Linked DNA regions of Homo sapiens: region 1 is linked to region 2. A link means that fine-mapping ties the variant in region 2 to the expression of a gene that starts in the linked region. Tissue or cell type: lung. Region 2 holds a variant in brackets; the other region holds the start of a gene. All regions are shown on one strand. Distances are from middle to middle.

What was found. PIP is the estimated chance that this variant, and not a neighbour inherited with it, causes the effect.
Region 1: it holds the start of HHIP-AS1, and the variant in region 2 is the best candidate, but not a certain one, in a credible set for the expression of HHIP-AS1 in lung (TOPMed, PIP 0.61).

Annotation. Positions count from the first base shown.
Region 1 is chr4:144,640,898-144,649,234 of GRCh38, reverse strand. HHIP-AS1 (HHIP antisense RNA 1) reads left to right here and starts at 3,216. Exons shown (of 2, transcript NR_037595.1): 1 at 3,216-3,528; 2 at 5,501-6,319. HHIP (hedgehog interacting protein) reads right to left here and starts at 3,079. Exons shown (of 13, transcript NM_022475.3): 1 at 2,281-3,079. The coding sequence starts at 2,559. RefSeq lists enhancers at 720-1,308, 2,549-3,114.
Region 2 is chr4:144,788,598-144,796,934 of GRCh38, reverse strand. No RefSeq gene overlaps it. Among named protein-coding and RNA genes, the nearest start is that of HHIP, 150 kb to the right of the region's middle. The variant A/T (reference allele first, on the strand shown) is at 4,395.

The sequences.
Region 1 (8,337 bases), 150 kb after region 2:
TTCCATAAACAAAAAAGGGCCCTTTCAAATAGCAATCATCTCTCCTGTATACACATTATGAAATAAGATCCTAACATATATTATAATCCAGGAAGGCTTACGGGAAAAAGGGAAACACTGAAGTTTATTATAAAATAACATGTTTTAAAAACTATTAAAACTTGAAAACTAACATAGGTCAAGAATGCATATGCATAGCTATAGCAAATCTCTGTTTTGAACAATTTGGGTATTGTTGATTTATAAACCTCTTGTAATAGAACCAGCAAAAGTCTAGTGTACCAAACTTAATTCAGACACACTTTCCAAATGAGTAGGGGTTTGTTGGAGATTGGAAGCACATAAAACAGAAAGGAATGTATATAGTTAACATGGCAGATTGCTTCCTAAAGAATGATTTCTTTAAAAAAATTTTTATATAACTTCTCTTAAGGGCTATAACTCCCCTTGGTCCCATCCCCCTTCCCCTTCTCCTCACCATTTAGTCAAGAACAAAATTTTCATTCCACATGTCTCTGGAAGAGTTGAGTATTGCAGGGGTCTCTAGATCATCAGTATATTCATAGTACGTATTGCACCAAGGGAGACTTAATGGCAAATATTTCTAAACTTTTCTCTGAATTTCCTGGTTCTTTAGGGCTCCTGATAAAACCTTTAAGGTGACCTGAATATAGCTATTTTGAAACTTAATTCAGTTGCAACACAGGAGCTTAAAGACATTGCTTTGAATAAAATCCTGGAATATCTGTTCCCTGAATCTCAGGCTCCTGCTGCATATGGTAAGAATAAAAAGAGAGTTGCAGCTGAAAACCTGCAGCAAGACAGTTCTCACTCATCTGGGAATAGAAGGAGTTGGACAAATGCTCCCTCAAAAGGCATGAACATTTGGACAGAGCTGGGGACTGAAAGAGAATGATGTTCTCTAGTTTCACCCATTAGTGAACCAACTAACAAATACAATGGTGTTGTTGTTATTCTTTTGCCATAAGCAACAGGACTCTGTGTGTGGGCAGCAGTTTAGTGGGGAGGAGGATAAGTCGACCCCTTTTTGTCCTATTGATTTTTTCCTATTTGCATGACTTGAGCAAATTAAATGATGCAATATGGCTTTTTGTTACAAAACAAAGTGAGAGATACCACCCAGACACATATGTTGATTCGTAGGAGCTGTTTACATGAGAATAGAGTGAAATCTACCGTGAACTGAGCATAAAAATTAGATTCAGCCTGGGTATTTTTTTTTTTTATTATGCCTGGGCCAGCAAGACTGAAGCACAAGTTTTCCAAGAGTCTCTCAGACCTTGACAACTGGCAGTGTTCTAACAGAGGAATTCTTAATTAAACCTAAAATGGGGAAAGGGAGGGGGAGCAAAGACACCTGATTGTTTATTTCACGTGCAGTGATTGTTAATGATGTGAGCCAGCAATGATTCCTTGGAGTACAGTAGATACCACCCATGACTGCATCTCCTGGCAAGAACGATATTGCAAACTCAAAAACAAGCGTGCCTTTACAGTCAACAAACACCATGTTAGTATTTAAACTTATTAACACAAGGATAACGTAAATGCCATTACTCTTAAAACAAATTCTTAGAGTAGATCTTCCAAGACACCAACTGACCCTGAAAGTCTGAATTTATAATGTTACAAAATGACGGAGAATCGTCTCAGTTTTATGTGATAAATAACGCCCCAGCAAAATCTTTCGCCAGTTTTTTTCAGGTCCCTAACCGGAGGACCAGGAGTTCCTTTCTGTTGGTTTAACTAATGTAATGCAAGACACCCCCCTCTGACGGGGCTGGGGATCATAAACCAACCATGCTTCAACATCCTTTACGATTCAATCCTCTCCCTAACCGAGCACGTGGAGAAAACAGCACAAATCTTTTTACCCTAGAAAAATAAGCCGGAAACCACAGCCACCTTAATTTACAGTTTCACCGCAGCCAATGCCCCATTCGATCCAAAACACACTGTTCATCGCGATTCTTTTAAAATATTTACCCAGCCCAGGGTGCGGGTACCGCAGAAACGTCTGTTTTCAGAGATAGGCAAGTTTGCACAGCATCCCGACCGCGGACTCTGGGGGAGGAAATGCTACTTGCTTACCCCAGAGGAACACACAACGGAATCACGTTAGCGCTATAGAAAAGTTATGGAAAGAACTCCCCCAAAGAAGTTTTGACCTTCTTACAACCACCGGCTTTGCCAGAGCCACAGGGAACCCCACCCAGCCAATATGCCAAGTACGCATCCGTGAAGCCGGTGAGTGCCTACCTTATTCTCCAGGCGCCCTAGCCCCGGGCTGTCACTCCGCAGGCAGCAGGACAGCCGAGGGTAGAAGCCACCGCACAGCATCTCTCCCCCACTCAGCAGCTCCAGCTGGGACATCATCCTCCTGTCTCTCCTTTTCAGGCGCTTCGGGGGGTTCCCATTCAGGCACCTTCTCCTCCTTGCTCCGCTCCCTTCGTTTCTTTCCCCAAACTTAGCATCTCCTTCAAAGAAGCCCAGAGCCACGGCCAGCAGCAGCAGCTTAAAGGAGAGCATCTTCAGCATCGTCTGCCCAGAGCAGCAGGGGCTGGGCGCGGGAGGATGGGGGGGAACGCCACTGCCCAGCAGGGGCACTAGGGCGCAGCTCCAGGAGGAGTTTGCGGGGCTGTAGGGCACTCCAGAGACAGAGGGAGGTGGCGGGGACAAAAATATGTACAGCGATGCAACTTTGCAAAAAATAAAAGACGCGGCGATGGGTCCAATGCCTTAGGGGAGCCCGAGGAGCGAGATAAAGTTGTGCGGATGACACCGTTTGCAGTTGTGCCAGTGTCAGTTGGGTTGGGGGCTTTCTGCTGCGGCTGGGAAGTGGGAGGAGGAGAAGGAGTTGGAAGAGGAGGAAGAAAAGGAGAGGACAGCCACAGATGTTCACTTGTCCGTGTAACGGGAGTTGTTTAGGTGGGACAGTAGCAGGAACAGAAACGGCGACGGCGGCGGCGGGGCAGGCGGAGGCAGGGCCAGCGCTGGGCTCTAGATGATGCTGAGGTCTCCTCTGCCGGCGGCTGCAGCTTCTCACACAGCCTCTCATGTTTCGTTCCCTCTTTTCTTCTTCTTTTTAACTAGCGCGCGGGGAGGTGCTGCCACAGCGCGCCCCTTGACGTCACCGCTTCTCGCGCGCCCCCGCCCAGGGTGGAGGGAAGGGGAGGGGGCGGCCCCCGCGCGAGCGCGTCCCCCGGGCCCCGGCGGCCTCCCTGCTGCGGCGGGGAGGGGCGGCTAGCCGCGACGGCGGCGGACGGAGGGGGAGGGCCGCGAGCCTTCGGAACCAGCCTCGAGGGTGCTGAACCCCGCGCGCCCGCCTCGCCGCGGCCCCCGGGTGGGGGCGTCCACGGCCCGGGTTCCCGGCGGGCTTGGGGCAGGGACGCAGTCCGGAGATTCCGGGACTGCCCGGCTGCTGCAGCCCGCAGGCTCCTCTCTCCTCCCCGCTTCCCCTCCGCACTGCCTGGGCTAAAGGCGGCCAAGCTGAGGCTCCGAAAGAAAGTAAGTAAGAGTGGGCCGTAGGAGGTGGGAAGGGAGGGACCCCTTCCAGGGCCATCCCCACCTCAGCCCCCCGGCCCGCCCCTCGCCCCGTGGGAGGGTGAACTAAGTGGGCTGGAGCGGACGGGAGGGAGCTTTTGGGCCCCTTTGTCTCCCCCAGCCGCACTGACACCCCCATTTTCCACACTGATTTTCAACGTGAAGCTCAAGTCCTCAAAGATCTTTCTTGGGGTCTGACTTAGAGGCAGGGGGACATCCCAGATGCCGTTGAGTAGGCTGAGATGGTTTGGAGACTCATCCTCGCCGGAGGTCCTGCAAGCCACTGAAGTGGCACAGACGCGTGTGCGCGGAGTGGGGCGGTGTGTCGGGCCACAGGCCAAGCCCAAGTCGGCCTCCCAGAGTGTTTGCCACGGTTTGGGCGGGTTAGTCCCCGACGCCCCTTTCAGGTCCCCACATGTGTTCGGGAATAAGCCGGGCCCCGCTGGTACCATCTGGGAACACAAGTTCTTGGGCCGCAGGTGGACGGAGAGAGAAGCTGGGCGCGGAATTAGTGTTCGTTTTAACACACACAAACACACACACACACACACACACACACACACCTGCACGCACGCGCGCGCAGTCCCTGGGGAGAGGTTCCCCTGGGTGTAGAAACAGAGGCGTTAGATCTGGAGAAAGAATTAGATGCAAGTCTGAGGGCATCCAGAAGCGCTGTGCTCTACTTATCCCCGTGTATACAAGTAAATTAACCTTTTCCCCAGCTAGACAAAGTCTGTGTAAATAGTGTGTCTAAAAAGATGTCTACGTTATCAGGAGCGGTGACTTGAGGTTTACTGGATCCCTGCAAGTTGGCATCAGGACGAGCTTCTATAGGGTTGCCCACAAAATGCGCTTCTAGCCCACTTGGGTATTTAACAGAGAAGCTGATTTCCCAGAAGATGGGCTTTGATGAGGAGATAAGGCAGTTGTCCCATTTTGGCAATGGAGGAATGTTCACCACATTTGGGTTTGCTTCACTTGTTGGACATTGATTTCGCCAAGTGATTGCAAAAGTTGGTGATGGTTGAGGTGGGCAGTTGATTAAATTAATCACTTCTGGTCACAGTGGCTAGGTAAGGCTTCTGTCTTTTTCACTTCCTGAGCCTGGATATTAGTGAAGTTAGGTTTTTCCCCAAAGAGATGACACATCAGAATAACTGAAAAGAATCTGCTAGGATGTTTGGCCCAGTCCTCAGCTAAATGTAGAGCCCCCATGACATATTTAACATTTTCCCCAGGGGCTGTTGTATACACATGACTTCTTCATGCATGTGATTGTAAGTCCACTTTGGATCTCACATACTTTTTTTTATCTGACATTCTTTCTGCTTTGAGGACTTTTAATATAAAATTAATCAGAAAGCAGTAAGCACTTTAAGACTTTAAACTCATTAATAGATCTCCAGATGAATCTCATCAAATTTAAATCACTTGCACAATTTCATCTCATTAGGTAGTTTGAGAATAAGGACTCGGATCCAATCTGGGGTGCTTTCCACTATCTAACCCTTTCTTCCCAAATTCCAGTTTTATATTCTTTTTCCAAAATAAAAGTCCTTCTAAAATCGTATTTCAGTAGTTTGAGCTCCTACTCTGATAAATTCCTGTTAGTAGTTTTGAAACAGGCCTTTCTTATGGCTTATACTAAGGCCACTTAAAGGTAAATTTATTTTGGTTTTAAAATACTATGCATCTGTTATAACCTACGACCCTAAGATATAGAAAGTTTATAAAAGATTACTGAAATAAGACATGCTTGTTATTTCTTGATATATGGAAATTAGAATTGATTTCATATACTGTTTGTCCTGAAAGTCAATAAATTGGGTCACTTAGGAGATAGCTTGAGCTTATTCTTAGTGTTACTGATATAATTTCTAAACAGTTACTAAGCAGTGTTATACAAATGGACTAACTTCTGATTTGTTTTTTCCAGAGGGAAAATTGCAACCCTTGCCTACAACCAGACTGACAGCATAATTTCTTAGGAATCAAGAATCAATACAGGGTTATTTCTTTAGATTAAACCTTAAAAGCCCCCTTGGAGGCTGAAGAAGCAGAGGATAGCCATGCATACACTTGAACGTGAAAAATGGTCCTCTTTCATTGGAGAGGTCTTCCTCTTCAGCTAAACCGACAGAGTGGTGAAAAGAAGAAGGGACCCCTTGTTGACCAAAATAATCCAGACAAATCAAATCGGCCCTTTCCAGCAAGGAGTGGAACAGCCCAAGGGTGGCTAGATCACATCTTCTGCTCACACCACCACTGAGCAACCCTCTCCAGGACTGCCACCTATGCATAGGTCATGCCCTGTGCAAGAGCACATAAAGTGGGAGCTGAAGTCCTGCCCAGGCTCCATTCACCAAGCAGAGCTTATGTTGTTGTGTGTCTGTGTCTACCCAGAGGATGTGGGTCCTTTTTAAAATGTGCACCAATGCATCTTGTATGAGCTGGCACCAGCTCGGACCATCCCACCCTCATACCCTGGTCCTATCCAGGGTTATATTCCCTACTTTAGAAGAATTAATTATTTTTATGAACGTATTTAGTTTATTGTAAAAAATGAAATATATGACACAAATTGAAATTAATTTCAGAGGTAAAGGTCAGAATATTACCATGTATGTGAATTATGTTTGTATGTATATGTATATATCAAGAGAGTTATATGAATATACATTTTTGTGTATCAGAAGTGAGGACAATTTAACTTTGTTAAGTGTTTGAAATAAAATTATTTTGAGTTTTGGAATCAGTTTTATGTATGGATTTCTGGCCTTCACAGAAATATGTACTATTTAATTCCATTTCAACAAATATATATTAAGTGTCAGGCACCGTGCTAAACAGTATGTATATAGTACTGAAAAATAATGCAAACACCCTGCTTCTAGGTAGTTAATAATCTAGTATAGAAGACAAATGATAAGGTCACAAATAAAATTACAGTTATAAATTGTGGTAAAAGGTATGAAAGAAATGCTAAGGTACAGAATAACAAAGCACACCTATTTCAGATTAAGTGACTGGAAAAAACTTCTCTGGGAAAATGACATTTCAGTTGAGACTTAGGATGACTTGGAAGGAGTACGAAGTGACTCCAACCACTGTTTAAAGTATAGGATCTTTTGAGTTCAGAATATAATTTGATACATTTGAGGAGAAGTGCAGAATAGATAACTCAGAATGGAAAGGCTAGAGGCCAAATTCGTAGATTTTTAGTTTATACACTCCAGGTAACTAATTAAGTTAGTGCCATGTATTTGTCATTTCCTTTTGTTTTTGCAAGTGCTCTTTCTTTCCTACCTTATACTTATCCATCTTTGTCTCTTTCTTTAAATTCTGGCTTAACAGCAACCTCTTCTAAGAATTATTCTAGTTTGAATGGCCTTTCAAGCATTGCACTTCATCTAAAAAGCATATAGATACATTTTATTTATTTTCTTTTGTGCATCATTGGTAAATACCTGAGATGTTTTTATATGTGCAAGTTGAATATTCATGAGATTATAATCTCCAGAAGGGCAGGAATTGCATTTCCTTCTTTGGAGACGCCAACATAGTTTAGTTTAGACTCATAGTAGAGCAACCGGCCTCTCAATAAATGCTGCTGAGTGGCTGATCTTGATTGAGTTGATAATTTTTAAAGGTTTAAAATGGAGCTCATATTTGCATTATAAAAACTTTAAATTGGGCCAGGCACAGTGGCTTGCCCCTGTAATCCCAGCAACTGGGGAGTCCAAGGTAGGAGGATTGATTGAGCCCCAGAGTTCGAGACCAACCTGGGCAACATAGTGAGACTCCATCTCTAAAAAAATTAGAAAAATTATCCGGGCATGGTGGAGCACACCTGTAGTCCCAACCACTTGGGAAGCTGAGGTGGGGGGATCACTTGAGCCCAGGAGATCAAGGCTGCATGCAGTGAGCTATGATTGCACTGCACTCCAGCCTGGGTGACAGAACAAGACCCTGTCTCAAAAAGTAAATTTTGAAATAGAAGAAAGCACACAATTTAAAGTGCACCATCACTAAGGAAGTGCAGCTGACCTTTCTACTAAAGTGTGATTCCACAGAGGAAGGACGGCCAGCAAAGCGAGGCAATAAATACACAGCCTTTAAAAATTAAAGATTGGTTATAATTCAGGTAAATGGACACAATGGTAGGGCTGCTTCTAGGATTTTTTCTACAGTTAGTCTTTCTTTCAAAAGTCAGCACCTACTGTGTGCCAGAGCCTGCTCTGGACCCTAGGAACACAGCAGTGAACAAAACTTTTTTCATGGAACTCATATTGTAATGGGGAAGACGGGTAACGATATAGAGTATACCAGATGGGGAGGAATGCTGCAGAGAAAAGGGAGCATGGGGAAAGATTGCAGGGGTTGGGAGAAATAATAATTTTGTATACATTGTCAGGAAAAGTGTTTACTGGGGCAATATTTGGGCAGATACAAGAAACAAGGGCAGAGAAATAGCCAGGGTCCACATTGCATGGGATCTTATAAGGTATGTTATGGATTTAGACTCTTAATTCGGAATGAGATGGTTTTCAATCAGGGGCCTTTGTCAGAAATAAACCATGCTAGCTATTTTCACAGTGCAAATTACATATGAGGAATTAGTTAAATAGGTGTCAGGGAACTGAAAAGGCAAAAGGGGAACACTACTGCAGGAAGCCACTCCCATCCCTAGGGATTGAGGACGAGGGAAGAGTTGGGGTTAATAGAACCTAGATGCTTGTTGGAGAGCCCTTGTAGAGCTGTGTAGATAGGGTT
Region 2 (8,337 bases):
AAAAATTGGCTGAAAGAAAGGGGCCACAGGTCCCCCATTAAGTTTGCTTAAAAGTTTGCTTTTTTCTTGTAAATTAGTTTATGTTCTTTGTAGATTCTGGATATCAGCCCTTTGTCAGATAGATAGATTGTAAAAATTTTCTCCCATTCTGTAGGTTGCCTGTTCACTCTGATGGTAGTTTCTTTTGCTGTGCAGAAGCTCTTCAGTTTAATTAGATCCCATTTGTCAATTTTGGCTTTTGTTGCCATTGCTTTTGGTGTTTTAGTCATGAAGTCCTTGGCCATGCCTATGTCCTGAATGGTATTGCCTAGGTTTTCTTCTAGGGTTTTTATGGTTTTAGGTCTAACATTTAAGTCTTTAATTCATTTTGAATTAATTTTCGTATAATGTGTAAGGAAGGGATCCAGTTTCAGCCTTCTACATATGGCTAGCCAGTTTTCCCAGCACCATTTATTAAACAGGGAATCCTTTCCCCATTTCTTGTTTTTGTCAGGTTTGTCAAACATCAGACAGTCATAGATGTATGGTATTATTTCTGAGGGCTCTGTTCTGTTCTATTGGTCTATATCTCTGTTTTGGTACCGGTACCATGCTGTTTTGGCTACTGTAGCCTTGTAGTATAGTTTGAAGTCAGATCGCGTGATGCCTCCAGCTTTGTTCTTTTTGCTTAGGATTGGCAATGAGGTCTCTTTTTTGGTTCCATATGAATTTTAAAGTAGTTTTTTCCAATTCTGTGAAGAAAGTCATTGGTAGCTTGATGGGGATGGCATTGAATCTATAAATTACCTTGGGCAGTATGGCCATTTTCATGATATTGATTCTTCCCATCCATGAGCATGGAATGTTCTTCCGTTTGTTTATGTCCTCTTTTATTTCGTTGAGCAGTGGTTTGTAGTTCTCCTTAAAGAGGTCCTTCACATCCCTTGTAAGTTGGATTCCTAGGTATTTTATTGTCTTTGAAGCAATTGTGATGGGAGTTCCCTCATGATTTGGCTCTCTGTTTGTCTGTAATTGGTGTATAAGAATGCTTGTGATTTTTGCACGTGGATTTTGTATCCTGAGGCTTTGCTGAAGTTGCTTATCAGCTTAAGGAGATTTTGAGCTGAGACAATGGGGTTTTCTAAATATACAATCATGTCATCTACAAACAGGGACAATTTGACTTCCTCTTTTCCTGATTGAATACCCTTTATTTCTTTCTCTTGCCTGATTGCCCTGGCCAGAACTTCCAACACTATGTTGAATAGGAGTAGTGAGAGAGGGCATGCCTCTCTTGTGCCACTTTTCAAAGGGAATGCTTCCAGTTTTTGTCCATTCAGTATGATATTGGCTGTGGGTTTGTCATAGATAGCTCTTATTATTTTGAGATACGTCCCATCCATACCTAATTTATTGAGAGTTTTTAGCATGAAGGGTTGTCAAAGGCCTTTTCTGCATCTATTGAGATAATCATGTGGTTTTTGTCTTTGGTTCTGTTTATATGCTGGATTACGTTTATTGATTTTCGTATGTTGAACCAGCCTTGCATCCCAGGGATGAAGCCCACTTGATCATGGTGGATAAGCTTTTTGATGTGCTGCTGGATTTTGTTTGCCAGTATTTTATTGAGGATTTTTGCATCGATGTTCATCAATGATATTGGTCTAAAATTCTCTTTTTTTTGTTGTGTCTCTGCCAGGCTTTGGTATCAGGATGATGCTGGCCTCATAAAATGAGTTAGGGAGGATTTCTTCTTTTTCTATTGATTGGAACAGTTTCAGAAGGAATGGTCCCAGCTCCTCCTTGTACCTCTGGTAGAATTCGGCTGTGAATCCATCTGGTCCTGGACTTTTTTTGGTTGGTAAGCTACTAATTATTGCCTCATTTTCAGAGCCTGTTATTGGTCTATTCAGAGATTCAACTTCTTCCTGGTTTTGTCTTGGGAGGGTGTATGTGTTGAGGAATTTATCCATTTCTTCTAGATTTTCTAGTTTATTTGCATAGACATGTTTATAGTATTCTCTGATGGTAGTTTGTATTTCTGTGGGATCGGTGGTGATATCCCCTTTATCATTTTTTATTGCATCTATTTGATTCTTCTGTCTTTTCTTCTTTATTAGTCTTGCTAGCGGTCTATCAATTTTGTTGATTTTTTCACAAAACCAGCTCCTGTATTCATTGATTTTTTGAAGGGTTTGTTGTGTCTCTATTTCCTTCAGTTCTGCTCTGATCTTAGTTATTTCTTGCCTTCTGCTAGCTTTTGAATGTGTTTGCTCTTGCTTCTCTAGTTCTTTTAATTGTGATGTTAGGGTGTCAATTTTAGATCTTTCCTGCTTTCTCTTGTGGGTATTTAGTGCTATAAATGTCCCTCTATACACTGCTTTGAATGTGTCCCAGAGATTCTGGTATGTTGTGTCTTTGTTCTCATTGGTTTCAAAGAACTTCTTTATTTCTGCCTTCATTTCGTTATGTACCCAGTAGTCATTCAGGAGCAGGTTGTTCAGTTTCCATGTAGTTGAGTGGTTTTGAGTGAGTTTCTTAATCCTGAGTTCTAGTTTGATTGCACTGTGATCTGAGAGACAGTTTGTTATAATTTCTGTTCTTTTACATTTTCTGAGGAGTGCTTTACTTCCAAGTATGTGGTCAATTTTGGAATAGGTGTGGTGTGGTGCTGAAAAGAATGCATATTCTGTTGATTTGGGGTGGAGAGTTCTGTAGATGTCCATTAGGTCCTCTTGGTGCAGAGCTGAGTTCAATTCCTGGATATCCTTGTTAACTTTCTGTCTCATTGATCTGTCTAATGTTGACAGTGGGGTGTTAAAGTCTCTCATTATTATTGTGTGGGAGTCTAAGTCTCTTTGTAGGTTACTAAGGACTTGCTTTATGAATCTGCATGCTCCTGTATTGGGTGCATATATATTTAGGATAGTTAGCTCTTCTTGTTGAATTGATCCCTTTACCATTATGTAATGGCCTTTGTCTCTTTTGCTCTTTGTTGGTTTAAAGTCTGGTTTATCAGAGACTCGGATTGCAATCCCTGCTTTTTTTTTGTTTTCCATTTGCTTGGTAGATCTTCCTCCATCCCTTTATTTTGAGCCTATGTGTGTCTCTGCACGTGTGATGGGTTTCCCGAATACAGCACACTGATGGGTCTTGACTCTTGATCCAATTTGCCAGTATTTGTCTTTTAATTGGAGCATTTAGCCCATTTACATTTAAGGTTAATATTGTTATGTGTGAATTTGATCCTGTCATTATGATGTTAGCTGGTTATTTTGCTCGTTAGTTGATGCAGTTTCTTCCTAGCCTTGATGGTCTTTACAATTTGGCATGTTTTTGCAGTGGCTGGCATCAGTTGTTCCTTTCCATGTTTAGTGCTTCCTTCAGGAGCTCTTTTAGGGCAGGCCTGGTGGTGACAAAATCTCTCAGCATTTTCTTGTCTTTAAAGTATTTTATTTCTCCTTCACTTATGAAGCTCAGTTTGGCTGGATATGAAATTCTGGGTTGAAAATTCTTTTCTTTAAGAATGTTGAATATTGGCCCCCCACTCTCTTCTGGTTTGTAGAGTTTCTGCCGAGAGATCAGCTGTTAGTGTGATGGGCTTCCCTTTGTGGGTAATCCGACCTTTCTCTCTGGCTGCCCTTAACATTTTTTCCTTCATTTCAACTTTGGTGAATCTGACGATTATGTGTCTTGGAGTTGCTCTTCTCTAGGAGTATCTTTGTGGTGTTCTCTGTATTTCCTGAATTTGAATGTTGGCCTGCCTTGCTAGTTTGGGGAAATTCTCCTGGATAATATCCTGCAGAGTGTTTTCCAACTTGGTTCCATTCTCCCCTTCACTTTCAGGTACACGAATCAGACATAGATTTGGTCTTTTCACATAGTCCCATATTTCTTGGAGGTTTTGTTTGTTTCTTTTTATTCTTTTTTCTCTAAACTTCTCTTCTCACTTCATTTCATTCGTTTCATCTTCCATCACTGATAGCCTTTCTTCCAGTTGATCGCATCGGCTACTGAGGCTTGTCCATTCATCACGTAGTTCTCGTGCCATGGTTTTCAGCTCTATCAGGTCCTTTAAGGACTTCTCTGCATTGGTTATTCTAGTTAGCCATTCATCTAATCTTTTTTCAAGGTTTTTAACTTCTTTTCCATGGGTTCAAACTTTCTCCTTTAGCTCGGAGTAGTTTGATCTTCTGAAGCCTTCTTCTCTCAACTCGTCAAAGTCATTCTCTATCCAGCTTTGTTCCGTTGCTGGTGAGGAGCTGCATTCCTTTGGAGGAGGAGAGGCACTCTGATTTTTAGAGTTTCCAGTTTTTCTGCTCGTTTTTCCCCATCTTTGTGGTTTATCTACCTTTGGTCTTTGATGACGGTGACGTACAGATGGGTTTTTGGTGTGGATGTCCTTTCTGTTTGTT[A/T]GTTTTCCTTCTAACAGTCAGCACCCTTAGCTGCAGGTCTGTTGGAATTTGCTGGAGGTCCACTCCAGACCCTGTTTGCCTGGATATCAGCAGCAGAGCCTGCAGAACAGCAAATATTGCTCAACAGCAAATGTTGCTGCCTGATCGTTCCTCTGGAATCTTCATCTCAGAGGGGTACCAGGCTGTGTGGGGTGTCAGTCTGCCCCTACTGGAGGGTGCCTCCCAGTTAGGCTACTCAGCGGTCAGGGACCTACTTGAGGAGGCAGTCTGTCCGTTCTCAGATCTCCAGCTGCGTGCTGGGAGAACTGCTACTCTCTTCAAAGCTGTCAGACAGGGACATTTAAGTCTGCAGTGGTTTCTGTTGCCTTTTGTTCAGCTATGCCCTGCCCCCAGATGTGGAGACTACAGAGGCAGGCAGGCCTCCTTGAGCTGCGGTGGGCTCCACCCAGTTTGAGCTTCCTGGCTGCTTTGTTTACCTACTCAAGCCTCAGCAATGGTGGATGCCCCTCCCCTAGCCTCGCTGCCACCTTGCAGTTTGATCTCAGACTGCTGCACTAGCAGTGAGCAACGCTCCATGGGTGTGAGACCCTCGGTGCCAGGCGTGGGATATAATCTCCTTGTGTGCCGTTTGCTAAGACCATTGGAAAAGCACAGTATTAGGGTGGGAGTGTCCTGAGTTTCCAGGTGCCATCTGTCACCCCTTTCTTTGACTAGGAAAGGGAATTTCCTGACCCCTTGCACTTCCCGGGTGAGGTGATGCCTCACCCTGCTTCAGCTCACACTCCGTGGGCTGCACCCACTGTCCGACAAGCCCCAGTGAGATGAACCCAGCATCTCAGTTGGAAATGCAGAAATCACCCGTCTTCTGTGTCACTCATGCTGGGAGCTGTAGACTGGAGCTGTTCCTATTCGGCCATCTTGGAACCAGAAAAGTCTTTTGATAAAATTTAACACCACTTCATGTTAAAAATTCTCAAAAAAGTAGCTATTGAAGGAACATATCTGAAAAGAATAAGAGCCATCTATTCTTAGCCCATGGCTAAGATTATACTGAATGGGCAAAAACTGGCAGCATTGCCTTGAAAACTGACACAAGACAAGGATGCACTCTTTCACCACTGATATTCAACATAGTATTGGAAGTCCTGGCCAGGGCAATCAGGCAAGAGAAAGAAATAAAGGTCATCCAAATAGGAAGAGGGAAAGTCAAACTATTCCTGTTGGCAGACAACATGATTCTATATCTAGAAAACTTCGTAGTTTCAGCTCAAAAGTTTCTTAAACTGATAAACAACTTCAGCAAAGTCTCAGGATATAAAATCAATTTGCAAAAATCACCAATATTCCTATATATCAACAACAGTCAAGCCAAGAGCCAAATCAGGAACACAATCCCGTTCAAAATTGCCACAAAAAGATTAAAATAACTAGGAATACAGCTAACAAGGGAGGTGAAGATCTCTACAAGGAGAACTACAAAACAGTGCTCAAAGAAATCAGAGATTACACAAAGGGAAAAATATTTCATGCTTATGGAAAAGAAGGGTAAATATTGTAAAAATGGCCATACTGCTCAAAGCATTTATAGATTCAGTGGTATTCCTATTAAACTACCATTGAGATTCTTGACAGAATTAGGGAAAAAAAAACTATTTTAAAATTCACATGGAACCAAAAAAACTGCCTAAATAGCCAAGGCAATCCTAAGGAAAACAAAAACAAAAACAACAACAACAACAACAGAAAAACCCAGAAAACAAAAATCAAAGCTGGAGGCATCATGCCACCCGACTTCAAACTATACTACAGGGCTATAGGACCAAAACAACTGGTACTGGTACAAAAACAGTTGCATAGACCAATGGAACAGAATAGAGAACCCAGAAGTAAGGTCACCCAACTACAGCCATCTGATCTTTGGCAAACCAGACAAAAACAAGCAATGGAGAAAGAATTCCCTATTCAATAAATGGTGCTATGATAACTAGCTAGCCATATGCACAAGATTGAAACTAGACCTCTTTCTTACACTATATACTATATATATATATATATATATATATATATATATTATATATATATACATATATATATATATTTATATATTTATATTTATAGAAAAATTAACTCAAGATGGATTAAAGACCGAAATGTAAAACCCAAAACTATCAAAACCCTGGAAGGCAATCTAGGCAATAACATTCAGGACATAGGAACAGGCAAAGATTTCATGATGAAGATGCCAAAAGCAATTGCAACAAAAGCAAAAATTGATAAATGGGATCTAATAAAATTAAAGAGCTTCTGTACAGCGAAGGAAAGTATCAACAGAGTGAACAGATAACCTACATAATTGAAGAAAGTTTTGTAATGCATGGATATGACAAAGGTCCAATATCCAGCATCTATAAGGAACTTAAGCAAATTAACAAGCAAAAAAACAAACAACCCCATTAAAAAGTGGGCAAAGGACATGAAAAGATACTTTTCAAAAGAAGACATACAATCATATGAAAAAAACCTCAACGTCATTGATCATTAGAGAAATGCAAATCAAAACAACAATGAGATATCATCTGACACTAGTCAGAATGTTTATTATTAAAAAGTCAAAAAATAACAGATGCTGGCGAAGTTTTGGAGAAAAAGGAACACTTATACACTGTTGTTGGGAATGTAAATTAGTTCAACCATTGTAGAAAGCAGCGTGATGATGCCTCAAAGTACTAAAGACAGAAATACCATTTGACCAAGAAATTCCATTACTGGGTACATGCCCAAATGAATATAAATTATTCTATTATAAAGACACATGCATGTGTATGTTTATTGCAGTATTATTCACAATAGTGAAGACATGGAATCAACCTAAATGCCCATAAGTGATAGACTGGATAAAGAAAATGTGGTACATATACACGGTGGTACATGGACTACTACACAGTCATAAAAAATAATAAGATTATGTCCTTTGCAGGAGCATGAATGGAGCTGGAGGCCATCATCCTTAGCAAACTAACACAGGAACAGAAAACCAAATACTGCATGTTCTCACTCATAAGTGTGAGCTAAATGATGGGAACACAAGGACACATAGAGGGGAACAATACACACTGGAGCCTTTTGGAGGGTGAGGGTTGGATCAGGATAAATAACTAATGGGTACTAGGCTTAATACCTGCGTGATGAAATAATCTGCACAACAAACCTCCATGACACAAGTTTACCTATATTAACAAACCTGCACATGTACCCCTGAACTGAAAATAAACATTAAAAAAAGGGTGAAGAAAACCAAATTACAAACAAAAATCGATTTATTCTTTTAGTTTTACCTATGTAATTATCCTTACAGGTGCTCATTTTTTTCTGCATGTGGATTTGAGTCACCATCTGGATTCCTTTAATTTCACCCTGAAGAACCCCCTTTAGTATTTTTTGTAGGGTAGGTCTGAGGTTCTTATACTGGTTTCTCATTTACTTCCTTTAGAAAGGAGACCATGTAATCATATAAATAGTTATGAAAATTGTTACGAAAGAATGATAAATTATAAAACAATAATTATATTTCACATTCTTTTGGAAATACAGTAGGTCTTTTATTACAAATATATTTCACATTCTTTGGACATACTGTAGTTCCTTTATTTTGAACCAGTTTTAAAGATTCTCTTGTTTTTAAAACTTTAAAAAACGTGTTTTTCTGTTAGAGTGATGGAAAAACTTCTTGAATGTAGCAATACAAATAATTAAATTATAAAAAGCACTTTAGTCTCAAATTATGAAATAAATTCTTTGTGAAATCAAATCTGGATCTGTAAACAATGGTGTTTGTTTAAAAAAAACTGAACAAGTAATGGAAAGTTTGGATAAAGGCACAGAGCATAATTCTTGAATACTGAGTGGTAAGATGATCTTTCATAACTCCCTTCAAAGTGTTTTA